Linked DNA regions of Homo sapiens. The protein of the gene in region 1 interacts with the protein of each later gene in a pairwise test. Each region holds a gene or a part of one and is shown on either strand. Other genes may lie near its edges.

What was found. The genes of interacting proteins can lie anywhere in the genome.
Region 2: the proteins of ZFC3H1 (region 1) and PIBF1 interact in a two-hybrid assay, tested with the Homo sapiens proteins (one large-scale study listed by BioGRID).
Region 3: the proteins of ZFC3H1 (region 1) and CADPS interact in a two-hybrid assay, tested with the Homo sapiens proteins (one large-scale study listed by BioGRID).
Region 4: the proteins of ZFC3H1 (region 1) and NINL interact in a two-hybrid assay, tested with the Homo sapiens proteins (one large-scale study listed by BioGRID and IntAct).

Annotation. Positions count from the first base shown.
Region 1 is NC_000012.12:71,656,908-71,661,307, forward strand, and holds part of ZFC3H1 (zinc finger C3H1 domain-containing protein), read right to left. Parts: exon of another isoform or gene 3,464-4,400; intron 395-3,463; coding exon 1-394. UniProt on the Homo sapiens protein: Subunit of the trimeric poly(A) tail exosome targeting (PAXT) complex, a complex that directs a subset of long and polyadenylated poly(A) RNAs for exosomal degradation. The RNA exosome is fundamental for the degradation of RNA in eukaryotic nuclei.
Region 2 is NC_000013.11:72,795,633-72,799,132, forward strand, and holds part of PIBF1 (progesterone-induced-blocking factor 1), read left to right. Parts: intron 1-2,274; coding exon 2,275-2,394; intron 2,395-3,500.
Region 3 is NC_000003.12:62,400,633-62,403,416, forward strand, and holds part of CADPS (calcium-dependent secretion activator 1), read right to left. Parts: intron 2,554-2,784; coding exon 2,449-2,553; intron 1-2,448.
Region 4 is NC_000020.11:25,454,365-25,456,531, reverse strand, and holds part of NINL (ninein-like protein), read left to right. Parts: intron 1-745; coding exon 746-859; intron 860-2,167. UniProt on the Homo sapiens protein: Involved in the microtubule organization in interphase cells. Overexpression induces the fragmentation of the Golgi, and causes lysosomes to disperse toward the cell periphery; it also interferes with mitotic spindle assembly.

The sequences.
Region 1 (4,400 bases):
GATTTCAGGGAAAGTGGTTTTGCTCCATCTTTAACTTTTTTCAAACGGTTCTTATCTCCTGGTAAAGTCAATTTTTGCCTGAGTGGTTTTAATTCAAATGCCTGAAAAGTTTTGACTTGTGTTTTCTCCTCAGGAGCTACTTCTTTACTTGAATCCTTTGTAATACTGACATTATCAGTGCTAGTTTGGTCCTCGAAGTTCAATGTTTTAGGATCTTCCTGCACATTCTCTTCTTTGCTACTCAATGCTAGTTTTTCATCCTTATTGATGCATTCTAGTTCCAACTGTATTTGTTTATACTTTAAAAGCAAATCTTCAAAAGTTTCTTCCACACAGTTTTCATTTTTTGATGAATAATTTTGTTTTCTTGATGGAGACCTTCCAAAACTTTTGGCTGAACAGCATATTAAGGAAACCAGTTTCCAAAAATTTTCCACAGTTAAATTTAACAAAAAAACTTAGATTATAGATGAATTTTCTCCCTTTTTAATTTTTCAAGAAAAATGAATCGATATTTTTAAATTACTAAATTCCATTTAATGTATGTGCAGCTAATGCCCACTTTCATTACGTGCCCATATTTGAATTTAGTAAGTACCATATAAACAGTCCACTTACAAAATCACTAGTGTCATAATTACCAGTAGTATCCACAGACAGTCCACCTAGTTAGGTTATAGCATCATTCCTTCTGTGCCAGGAAAGTCCATAATTAGCTGTATGTTAGAGATTATTTTCTGAAGGAAGAGGGGAGAAACTGAATGCTTTGTCACAGATGCGGATAGTTTACACTTCAGGGGGCCAGGCGCGGTGGCTCACGCCTGTAATCCCAGCACTTTGGGAGGCCGAGGCAGGAGGATCACTTGAGGTCAGGAGTTTGAGACCAGCCTGGCCAACACAGTGAAACCCCATCTCTACTAAAAATTAAAAAATTAGCCAGGCGTGGTGGTGCAGGCCTGTAGTCCCAGGTACTTGAGACGCTGAGGCAAGAGAATTGCTTGAACTCAGGAGGCGGAGGTTGCAGGGAGCCAAGATCACACCACTGCACTCCAGCCTGGGCAACAGAGGGAGACCTCATCTCAAAAAAAAGAAAAAAAAAAACACTTTAAAATAGTACTCAAAATATATCTATTTTTCTCCTACAGACAAGGGAAAATGTTATGAAAATAATCTGAAGCAACTGTTCTTACTTTCTTCTCTAACACAGTGATACACAAAAGGTAACTTTTTCCTTAGAAACAGCTACAAAATTTCAAACTACAATTTTTATTCTAAACAATTCATACACGAGAATTGTTATACCTCATTTTTCCAGGCCAGATATTAGCAAGAGAAAAGACAGTACCTCCTGTGGTTTTAATACATCATTTATAGATTTTTTTTTTTTTTTTTTTTTTTTGAGACAGAGTCTCGCACTGTCAGCCAGTCTGGAGTGCAGTGGTGCGATCTCGGCTCACTGCAACCTCCGTCTCCCAGGCTCAAGCAATTCTCCTGTCTCAGCCTCCTGAGTAGCTTGGATTACAGGTGCGTGCCACCATGCCCAGCTAATTTTTGTATTTTTAGTAGAGATGGAGTTTCACCATGTTGACAAGGCTGGTCTTGAAATCCTGACCTCAGGTAATCCGCCCACCTTGACCTCCCAAAGTGCCGGGATTACAGGTGTGAGCCACTGCACCCAGCCTATAGATTATTTTCAGTTGGCTAGGATGTAAAATACAGTACCCCAAATACGGTTCTTCTGTTTAAACACCTCACAGGGCAAGCAGCAGAAAAGGTTTTTAAACTCTCCTGATGACCAGTTCTAAAAATGAGAATTACCATCATCTAAGAAACAAAAATAAGCAATAAGTACATCTGAAAATCTTAACAGTTCTACAGCAAAACTGTTCTAGTAAATCTCTGGTTCTCTGATCTCTTCAAAGCCAAGTATCCTGAAAGAAAACTAGTTTCTCTGTACCCTTCTTACCAAATGGAATCTGGTTTCTGTCCCATTAATCTAGAGAGACTGCTGTGGCTAAGTTTCCCTATCAATGTTTTCAAACTTTATTTTTTTTTACCTGACCCCTCTGAGAATCTGACACCATAAACCACTTCTCTCTTGGCTTCCATAACTCCGCATCTCCCTTTGTTTCCCTATTTGTGTTTTGTCTTTTAAGTCTCCATTGAGTCTTTTCTCTCTAACTTGTGAAATAATGGTGCTCTTCAGGGAGCACTACTTAGCCTCTTTCTCATTTTGAGCATTCTAATGCACCTCCACAGTTTTACCTACCACAGGAGAGTTTACCCTGGTGATAAGATATTTCTCTTATCTCCTACAAGCCATCCTTCATACTGCTGCTGCCAGAGTAATCTTTCTAGAATACAAATATAAGATCATTCCCCTTGTTTAAATTTCCCTAATAAAAAAGTCCAAAATCCTGAGAATAAATATAATCTGACCTGTGCTTTCCTTTCCAAACTTACTTTTTCCTTGTTCATCACAATTTTTGCATAGCTTTGTGTCTAAGTTTGTCTGTTCTTCAACTTAACCCCAATTCAAGTGTCACCTCTGTGAAGCCTGAGTTTCTCACTCTCCCTTCCCCTCTTACACACTCTTTGTATGTAAGTTCTGTAATTATCTGCATTTACATCTTACTTTTCACTGGAGCCATTTAAAGGCACAACTGCAATTAAAAAAAAAAGAAAAGAAAGGGAAATGATTAAATACACTAACAAAAATGCTAAATAGAAAAATAAGGAAAAGCAATTGAGTTACAACTATAACTGACTAATCTCCTTCAAGGCTAAAGAAAATCTATCCCTATCTATACAGAAGCCTAAGATCAAACCAACACTTACCAGATTTAATTTTAAGCTTGTCAAGATACAATTTCTAACTGAACCTTGGTTTAAACAAAAAGAAGTGCTATTCAACCTTTTCAGCTGCAGCTGAAAATGGAATGACTTTTTACTGATGAGAGACACTAGCCTAATTATGTTAGCTCTCCTCAGATTTGAAAGTTTAAAAGAGTAGTCATTCAAGGGAGACATGCTAAGATGTACTGACAAAGTGTCTATCATTAAGAAAAATTAAGGGTGAAAATAAGAACTGCAATTGAATCTAGTTTATTCTATTTCTTTAAAGTTGCAACTAGCATATCTTAGTTATTACAGTGAAAGGAGTTATGGCAAAAATAGAAATAAACCCTATACTCAGGCTACTTTACTTCTAAATTACAGAAATATGCCACAGAGTAACCTGCATTCTTTCTTTATACAGTATTTGTAAAATAAAAAAGGTATTATTATAATCACATAGTGGAAATATGAATTAAACTGAGTACAACCTTGATATTAAATAAATTTGAATGAAGTGTTGTAACAAATATTTTGTTTGCTCACATTATATAAAAGTAGCTGGGAACTACGTTTTCCTTCTCAAATTCTTAAAAAGAACACCACCTCTAGGATGGATTACTGATACTTCATAGGGAAAACAATGAGCAGGACATCAAAACAAGCATCCTTTTAAGTGCAGCATCTGTGAAAAGAAAAACAACAAGATATCTTATTTATGACAAGTTACTACGGAAATCAAAGTCACACAAGCAGACTGGATATTTTCTGGTACTTTTTTTTTTTTGCAACATCATATGCCAGTTTACTAATAAAAACATGCAAGCTTACCAATTAATAAAGGTCTATGGTAGAGGCCCAAAATAGTATTGAATAAACACGCAGAAAGAGGACAAAAGCAGAAAGCCCACTCACCTCCCCCTTTTCTAATACAGAATAAAAATTTTAAGAAAAACCTTTGAGCTCCCATAGTACTTTTTTATATACATACTTCAGTTTCAACTTTTTATACTAAACTGCAACTACTTATTTTCATTTGTTTCCCTAATACAAACTACAGGTTTCATCTTTGTACCTTTAAAAAACACATATAAACTGGTGGCTCTCGCCTATAAATCCCAGCACTTTGGGAGTCTAAGGAAGGAGGATCTCTTGAAGCTACAAGTTCAAGATCAGCCTGGGCAACATAGCAAGACTTCGTCTCCCCAAAAAAAAATTTTTTTAAATAAATTTAATAAAAATTTTTTTTAATTAAAAAAATTTAAAAACCATCCACATTGGCTGGGCACGGTGGCTCATGCCTGTAATCCCAGCACTTTGGGAGGCCGAGGTGGGCGGATCACGGAGTCAGGAGATCGAGACCATCCTGGCTAACATGATGAAACCCTGTCTCTACTAAAAATATAAAAAATTAGCCGGGCGTGGTGGCGGGCGCCTGTAGTCCCAGCTACTCGGGAGACTGAGGCCGAATGGCGTGAACCCGGGAGGCGGAGCTTGCAGTGAGCCGAGATCACACCACTGCACTCCAGCCTGGGCGACAGAGCGAGACTCTGTCTCAAAAATAA
Region 2 (3,500 bases), on another chromosome or scaffold:
ACTTTTGAAGTACCCAATTGATACATTATTTTATGGCTATGGATGGTGAATGGTGTTGAGATCCAAATTTTAAAGGATCATGACCATTGATCTCCAAAGTCAAGCAATAAATAGGTTTCTGAAGTTAATGACTGCATAGTCCATAGAAATGAATTATCGTAAACTGGTGGTTTCTTACATTCTCAAAATGAAAAATTATAAACAACAGAGTAGTTGTTGCCAGGGGTTGGTTGGGGATAGTGGGAGAGAGGAGTCAGCGTGGTTATAAAGGGATAGGATGAGAAAGAACTTTGTGGTGAGAGATTGGCGCAAGATCTTGATTGCAGTGCTGGTTACACAAATCTAGAACACCTAGGATTAATCTATGGCAGTGGTCTCAAATATTTTGGTGTCAGCATTCATTTACATTCTAAAAGTTATTGAGGACCCCAATGAGTGTTTGTTTATATGGGCTGTATCTATTAATATTTACCATACTAGAATTTTAAACTAACAACTTTTTTAAACACAAGAATAAGCACACAATTCCATTGGCCTTAAGAGTGATAATGTCATATGTCATGTAGCCACTGGCAAACTCCACTGAACAGTCATGAGAGAATGAGAATGAAACGGGGAAAAAAAATCTTAATAATTACTAGGAAAGTCGTTTTGATCTTGTGAATTCCCTGAAAGGATCTCAGAGTGGCGAGTGGGGCAGAGTCCAGGAGTCCCAAAACCATATGTTGAGAACTGCTGCTTTTTAATATGTAGATGTCATTTTACCCTGAGAGGCTTGAATTTTTTAATCCCTAAAAAGGGTTAATAGTAACGGTGCGTTTCTATTGGGGATAATTGTAAAGACTATAACTATGTATGTAAAATGCTTGTGAGCATAGTGCTTAGAAGATAGTAAACACATAAAAATGTTGTCTATTGTTTTTGCTGGAGTGGTGGTTGCTATTCTTGGTTCTCATTGGGAAAAGATTTGCAGATTAGTGATGTCTGATAAAATGAAGTTACTTTTTTGTTCAGCTGTTTTTTTTTTTTTTTTAAAAGGCTCAAATACAGCTTTTCTGTCCAAAGTATACTGTCCAAAACAAATTAAATATCTCAAATTCTGTTTTTGAGGCTTCATTTACAGTAGATATAAAGTATCACACTGGTGGCAGTTACACATATTTTTGCTGTTTGTTTTCTTAATATTCCTTCTTACATCTTTTGTTTTCACAGACAATATTATCCTTAACTAATTAATTATATGCAGATTCTTTTTGTTGAGGGCTAGTATTAAGATTTGCCTCTTACCAAATAATGGTATTCTTGTAATACCGTCATATGTTAAGGAGTTTCAGATTGCATGCCTATATGATAGCCCCTAATTACTCTCTCCTAATTTGCTGTGATGATTTCTTAGTTTTATGGGACCTTGTCAGATGGAACACTTTACTGAGCTAGGGTAGGAAAATTTCTCTGAGACAAGTATGAGTGGAAAGAGAGACCTGAACTAAATGGAAGTAATGATGTGAAAGATACCTCTTGATTCATTCTGATTAGACTTCCACTGTAGGGACAGCAGTAAATAAAGCTTTGCCAAGAGCCTGGGATGAAAATAAAGAATACACTTTACCTCTTCATCAAGTATTTATTGAGTGCTTATCATATATTTAGGCATTGGAAATACAGCGGTGTATAAACCAGACAAAAATCCCTGCCCTCAGGTTGTGAAAGTGGAGCAACACAGGCAATAACTTAAAAATTAAATATGTAGAATATCTGTTTGTCAAAGGTGCTACAGAGAAAAGAGCAGGGGTGAAAAATAGGGAGTGCTACTTAAAATTAGGTAAAGAAATCAGGGAGGGCTTTACTAACAAGGTAATATTTGGTCAGAGACCTATAGGGAGACAAGGCATGAGCCATGCATTTATATGGGGGAAGAACTTCTCTAGCAGAAGAAACAGCAAGAGCAAGACTCCTGAACATTTGTGATATGTTCCAGAAGTTTACAAGCACCTAGTGTGGAGTGAGCAGTAGTAGATGAGTAGTAATGGAGTGTCAGTAGAAGGGAGGAAATACTGTCAAAGGTAAGAGGTTATAAATCATCTGGCCCTTGAGGGAAGTTAATTGAACATTAAGGCTTGATAGAAAGTATTAGTGGCTAGGGTCCATTAATGACTGTCTTGTTGTAGTTTTGTAAATATTTATCTTTATTACTGATAAGTGAGAGCACTACAAATTACAAATTTTAATTGTAATTTGGATTTAAGACTGCTTATTAATTTAATTTTTTTCAAGGTTCGCTTCTATGAGCTAGTGAATCCATTAAGAAAGGAAATCTGTGAACTACAAGTGAAAAAGAATATCCTAGCAGAAGAATTAAGTACAAACAAAAACCAACTGAAGCAGCTGACAGAGGTTTGTATGGTTTTGATTGCTGGTGGGAAGAAGCTTCGGCTTTTTCTGTAGAGTCCCTCAGGATTTGTGATAAGGCATATAAAAGTCAGTGATTGAAAAATGGGACTATGGGATGGTGACTGCTACAGTTCAATAATGGGAAGGAGGTTAAATTGGAAGTAGTCATCTTAAACATTGACAAGACAAGTCTGTGTTATTGACGTATCCTATAGTTGAGCTTTTATTGTTGCAAGTCAATTTTATAATCAACTGCTTTTGAAATCCTAATATGGGCTATATCTGAAAATTGCTGTGTATCCTTAGATGACGCATATGCATGTATTTATTTAGTAATTTGTCTCTATTTTTAACATCACTTTGTCAGGAAATTTAAGCAAGAAACAAGAAATGTAGGCCAAGCTATGCAGGGGATCTCTTGCAGGTGCCATAAGAAAGAAGAAAAGGAGAATATTTTTACTTTGAACTAAGTTGACTCGTAGGTTCTGGTTTGCCTAAGACTGTTGCCATTATTCCTGTGAATAAATATTAATAGCACCCCTTTATTTTCAAAATTATCTCAGCCTAGACGATGAATATAGTAATCATAAATCAACATTTATATAGAAGGGTGGACTAATCATTAACTTGGTTGTATTATTGACCAGATATCCTAGAATACTATCTTGTAGTTATAGTCTACTAACAAAAAAATAATGGTAGATTGATTCATTCTACCATGTAACAGTTGGAAATGGGTGGCTGTTTTTCTTCAAATATTTCGTTATTCTAAAAGGAAAACACTTCTAGTTTACAAATGGGGGCTGCTGCAGTTCTTCATTACAAGTTAGCCTTGTTCGTGATATGAGATGGAGCTACTGTCCATTTATTACTTACGTGGCTTCTTTGTGAAGTGCAGTTAACTCTCATAATATTTATTCTGAGCATGTGTACTGATACTAGCATTAACCCCAGTGGTGTGCATGGTGCTGTGCTAGGTGCTGGCAGTGAACCCAAGAGAGGCAATGCCTGCCCTTCTAGAGTTTACTTTCTAGCAGGTTAGGATTAGAACGTTAGGTGATATTTTGACACTCTCATTTACTGTGTGACCATGACCAGGTCATTTAATG
Region 3 (2,784 bases), on another chromosome or scaffold:
TCTGTCACCCAGGCTGGAGTGCAGCAGATCGATCTCGGCTCACTGCAACCTCCACCCCCTGGGTTCAAACGATTCTCCTGCCTCAGCCTCCTGAGTAGCTGGGATTATAGGTGCCCGCCACCATGCCCAACTAATTTTTGTATTTTTAGTAGAGACAGGGTTTCACCATGTTGGCCAGGATGGTCTTGATCTCCTGACCTTGTGATCCACCCGCCTTGGCCTCCCAAAGTGCTGAGATTACGGGCGTGAGCCATCGTGCCCGGCCCATTATTTCTATTTTTAATAGTCCATCTAATGCGGTCATGATAGCAACAATCACAATGTCAACCCCTCTTGAAGGTCACATGTTGTAATGACTACAGAGTTAATGAGTGAACCCAGTTCAGCTTACTGAAGTCCAATAACAAAAAAGTAATCTGGTTTGACATTAAATTATAAGGTTATCCTCAATCATGCATCAACCTGCAAGTCTTGCTGAGAGGAGGAAGCTAGACAGCTACCTGAACTGTGTTTTCACTTTGATGGGGACGGGTAAGAGACTGAATAAATGTTAGGCATGGTGTGGGCCAGATATCTACACAATTAACTTAAATTTTTGTACTTTTCAATCATTTGTTCTGTTGCCACTTAGAATAACATAATTGTTGCCAGAATATGATGGGGGAAAATAAAGGTAAAAAGCATTTGAGCATTCTCCCTTTTATTCAAATTCCATAGCAACGTGTATACCAACTAGACTCTCAATGCCTAAGTGCAGAGACCACATCTAGTCATTTCTGAATCCTCCATCTGGTAATATACAAGTAGAGGCCCACCTAATATTTATCCAATGTTGAATGAATAAATAAATGCTTGCTGAATAATAAATGAATGGGTGAATAAATGAAGTGGCTGTTGATGCAAGAAAGAAAGCCAATTATCCTTGGAAATTTGCCCTGGAGGAGGAGGCCTCTGGGTGATGTTCTTGGTTTAAAGTTTGTGAATTCTGCTTCATAGCTCTGAGTTGTGGCATTAGTTAAGCTGAACCCACTTTTTGCTAAAGTGAAGGGGTTCCTTTGGCAGTGACTTTTCTATATCCCTTCTCTGTGGCTCATACCACATTTTTTTTTTTTTGTTTTGGCAAAAGGCTAAGATTAAACCTCCCCTCTGACTTATATTTTTCCTTCATAAAATATTGTTAATTTCCAACACCAATCTGGAAATAGAAATAATGGGAAGATAATTTTTAAGTATGACAATTATATCTTCTTTTCATGTCTACCCAATAAGGGTCAAACAGACAATTTCCCCAAAGTGCATTTATGCACAGAAAATGGAATTCAAGTGGTCAGGCGACCACTTGACGATTGAGCTGGTCCTAAGGAACTGAAGTAAAAAAATGTGAAAATGAGGCTGGGTCCATAGTCTAAGTGTATACATTCGTTTTTTAAGAGCTGTAATACACTGCTGTCTATAACCTTTCCCGGGTGGATGCTTTGTGAGATCAAATGCAGATAATAATAATTCTCCTTAATTACACACAACGGAACAGCAGTTGGTTGTAAGTCAGCACTGGGGTAAAGTGAAATGGTGCTGATCCAAAAGAGACTAAGAAACGGGGTGGGGGCGGGGGGGGGGGGTGCCCAGGAGTGGGTGTTGCAGGGACTTTTGGCAAACTGTTAAGAAATAGACATTCAGCTACATTTATTGTTAAAATATTTTAAAGGACTTTGTGCTTTGAATGAGATTTTTGCATACAAATGTTTTAAAACCCTCTATGGTGAAGCATCAAATAGAAACTGAAATGATCAAAAATGTATTTACCCCCTTCTGTGATCTTATTATTTCATGTAAACCACTGAGATTTCACGCTGAAATAATTATCATTAGTCCAAGGTGCACACACAAGAACAAGGGAAAAAGCTACTTTCAGGGTATGTTATCTCACCTTTGTGATCCTTTACATTTGATTGTATACACGCATTGTAAGACGAACTACTTCAATTAACTATGAGAACAATATTGATTTGCATTCTGATAATGATCACAGGACATATTTAGAAATAGCTGGGGGTAAATATTTCTATTAAATTAATAGCGGCAACATTTTATTTAATTAAACTATAAATGAAATTGGTAATGGATGTGATTAACATAATGACACCAAAAGCCAGTTTTTGAAAGTCTAATGCAAAGGACACGATGGCCTCTGCCGTATTTTTGTATGGCAAAACCAAGTATTTTTCCTCTCTGGAAAAAGATATCAAATTCATTTGTATTAAATTTCCCTTTGCTGTCTGAGTAACACATTTATCATGCATCACAAAACAATTGCATAGGTTTTTCTTGTATGAGATACTATTTTATATGTAAACTAATATTCTTTGTGTTAAGCAAGCTTTGCAGCTTGCCAGTGAAATATATTTCAGTAAGCTATTTGCAAAGAAGAATAATAATCTTTTCTTTTACCTTTACCATCCTAATTAGTGTTTTCAACTGATAAATATGAAGCTGTAAGTCCATCCGGTCCGTCAACCAGGTGCAGATCACGTTCATGGAGCTGTTGTACCATTGCTGAAAAAAGAGACAAAAGTTCTCCAGCCAACACATCATGGAGCATTTATAGGGCAGAGAGAGAGCAGGCAATGTTTGAGTACCCCACTCTGTTCCAGGAGGAAACAAAATGGTTAAAGAGAATTTGAGAGCATAGAGTTTAATGAACGTTAGTTAGTTTATACAAAATTGCAAGGTACTGGGTACTGGACCAATCCAAGACAGACAATCTAAGACAGTTAGGACTTCGAA
Region 4 (2,167 bases), on another chromosome or scaffold:
CTGTCACCCAGACTGGAGTGCAATGGCACAATCTTGGCTCACTGCAACCTCCGCCTCCTGGGTTCAAGCAATTATTCTGCCTCGGCCTCCCGAGTAGCTGGGACTACAGGCGCCCGCTACCATGCCCGGCTGATTTTTTGTATTTTAGTAGAGATAGGGTTTCACTGTGCTGCCCAGGCTGGTCTCGAACTCCTGAGCTCAGGTAATCCGCCCGCCTCAGACTCCCAAAGTGCTAGGATTACAGTTGTGAACCACTGCACCTGGCTTTTTTTTTTTTTTTTTTTTTTTTTGAGATGGAGTCTCACTCTGTCACCAGGCTGGAATGCAGTGGTGCTATTTCGGCTCACAGCAACCTCTGCCTCTTGGGTTCAAGTGATTCTCCTGCCTCAGCCTCCCAAGTAGCTGGGACTACAGGTGCACGCTACCACGCCCAGCTAATTTTTCTTTTTTTTTTGAGACTGAGTCTTGCTCTGTCACCTAGGCTGGAGTGCCACTGCAACCTCCACCTCCTGGGTTCAAGTGATTCTCCTGCCTCAGCCTCCCAAGTAGCTGGGATTACAGGTACGCACCACCACACACGGCTAATTTTTCTATTTTTTTTAGTAGAGATGGGGTTTCACCATGTTGGCCAGGTTGGTCTCAAACTCCTGACCTCAGGTGATCCGCCCGCCTCGGCCTCCCAAAGTGCTGGGATTAGAGGCGTGAGCCACCATGCCCGGCCACCTGCAACCTTCTTTTATGGCAGGAAGAACATGAGAAACAGCTGAAAGCCACAGAAGAGCGGGTGGAAGAGGCGGAGATGATTCTGAAGAATATGGAAATGCTCCTCCAAGAGAAAGTGGATAAGCTGAAGGAGCAGGTGAGTGATGGGCGCTGCTGCTTTCGTGTTCACGTCCTCTTCTGAACGCTCTCCACTTTTATGGGTGTGCAGGTAGCTAATACAGGAAAAGGCTGTCTTGTCACAGAATTCCAGGGAACTAAATGTATACCCTACACTGCAGGTGCACATTCATTTATTTTCCTCCGGGAATGGTTTTAAGATCTGTCCTTTGGGTGTTCACATACACTCAGAAAGGACTCATCCGTTCATTTGTTCATGTAGTCATTCAGGCATCCCCAAGCACCTCTGGTCTAAGCTTTCCCAGGTAGACCTGAGATGAGCAGGGCTGAGCCTGCATCCCAGACCTGACCCTCTGGAGACAGAGGCAGATGCTTCCATAGAGCATACATGACCTCGGGCCATGATGAGTGCTCTGAAAATGAGAGAATAGAGGTGGAAGGAGCCGGTGGGGTGGTCAAGGCCACTTTGAAGAGCCAGCATTTGGTCAGATGCCCAGTGACCAGCACAGGAACGTCCAGCTGTGTCCCCAGCAGAGGCCAGGTGGCATTTGGAAGGCTCAGTGGGTGGGAGATGCACACATCTCCTCGTGTCTGGGGGACTCCGAGGAGGGTGCATTCCAGGCAGCGGACAGCCATGGAGGAGGCCGCCATGGCTGGTGTGAACTGGTAGGGCTCAGGTAGGCAGTGCCTGTCGTGTGTATCCTAGAAGCCAAGGTCAGGGGTTTGGGTTTTATCATAATGGCAGTTAGAAGGCATAGGGAGATTTTAAGTAAAAGCATGACAGGATCTATCTTTTAAAAGAAACCATACTAGGGAAAAAGTCACTTGGGCTACTGTAAGGAGCAAAGACCAAAAATGAGGTGCCATAACTCACCTGGTCTGTAGATGTTCGAAGTCCAACTCAGCAGGTGGGAACTGACGTGCAGCAGTGCTGTGCCCTGAGGGCTGATGGCACAGGGTGTGGGTGGACCCCACGGGTGTGGGGTGCACACACAGAAGAGGCCCGGCCACGGACCACATTCAGTGTTAGGATTAAGAGAAATATGAAAACCTGGAGAAGTATTTTTGCTCCATCGTGATCCAGTATGGTTTGGTCTACATGAGGGATCCTGAGCTCAGCCCAAGCTAGACAAGGCATTTGTGGAAGGTTCCCAGTCCCTCCCTGGGGCCACCCGTCCTTGCCCAGCTTCCTCCCCTACTGGTGCCCCCGGTCCCTCTCACCCTTTCTCCCTGGCACACACCCACAGTCCTCAGTTGCCCGTCTCGCCAGCAACACCTGACTTCTGGTTCAATCCTGTGGCTCCTGCATACCTGCCCTGGCCCTGAG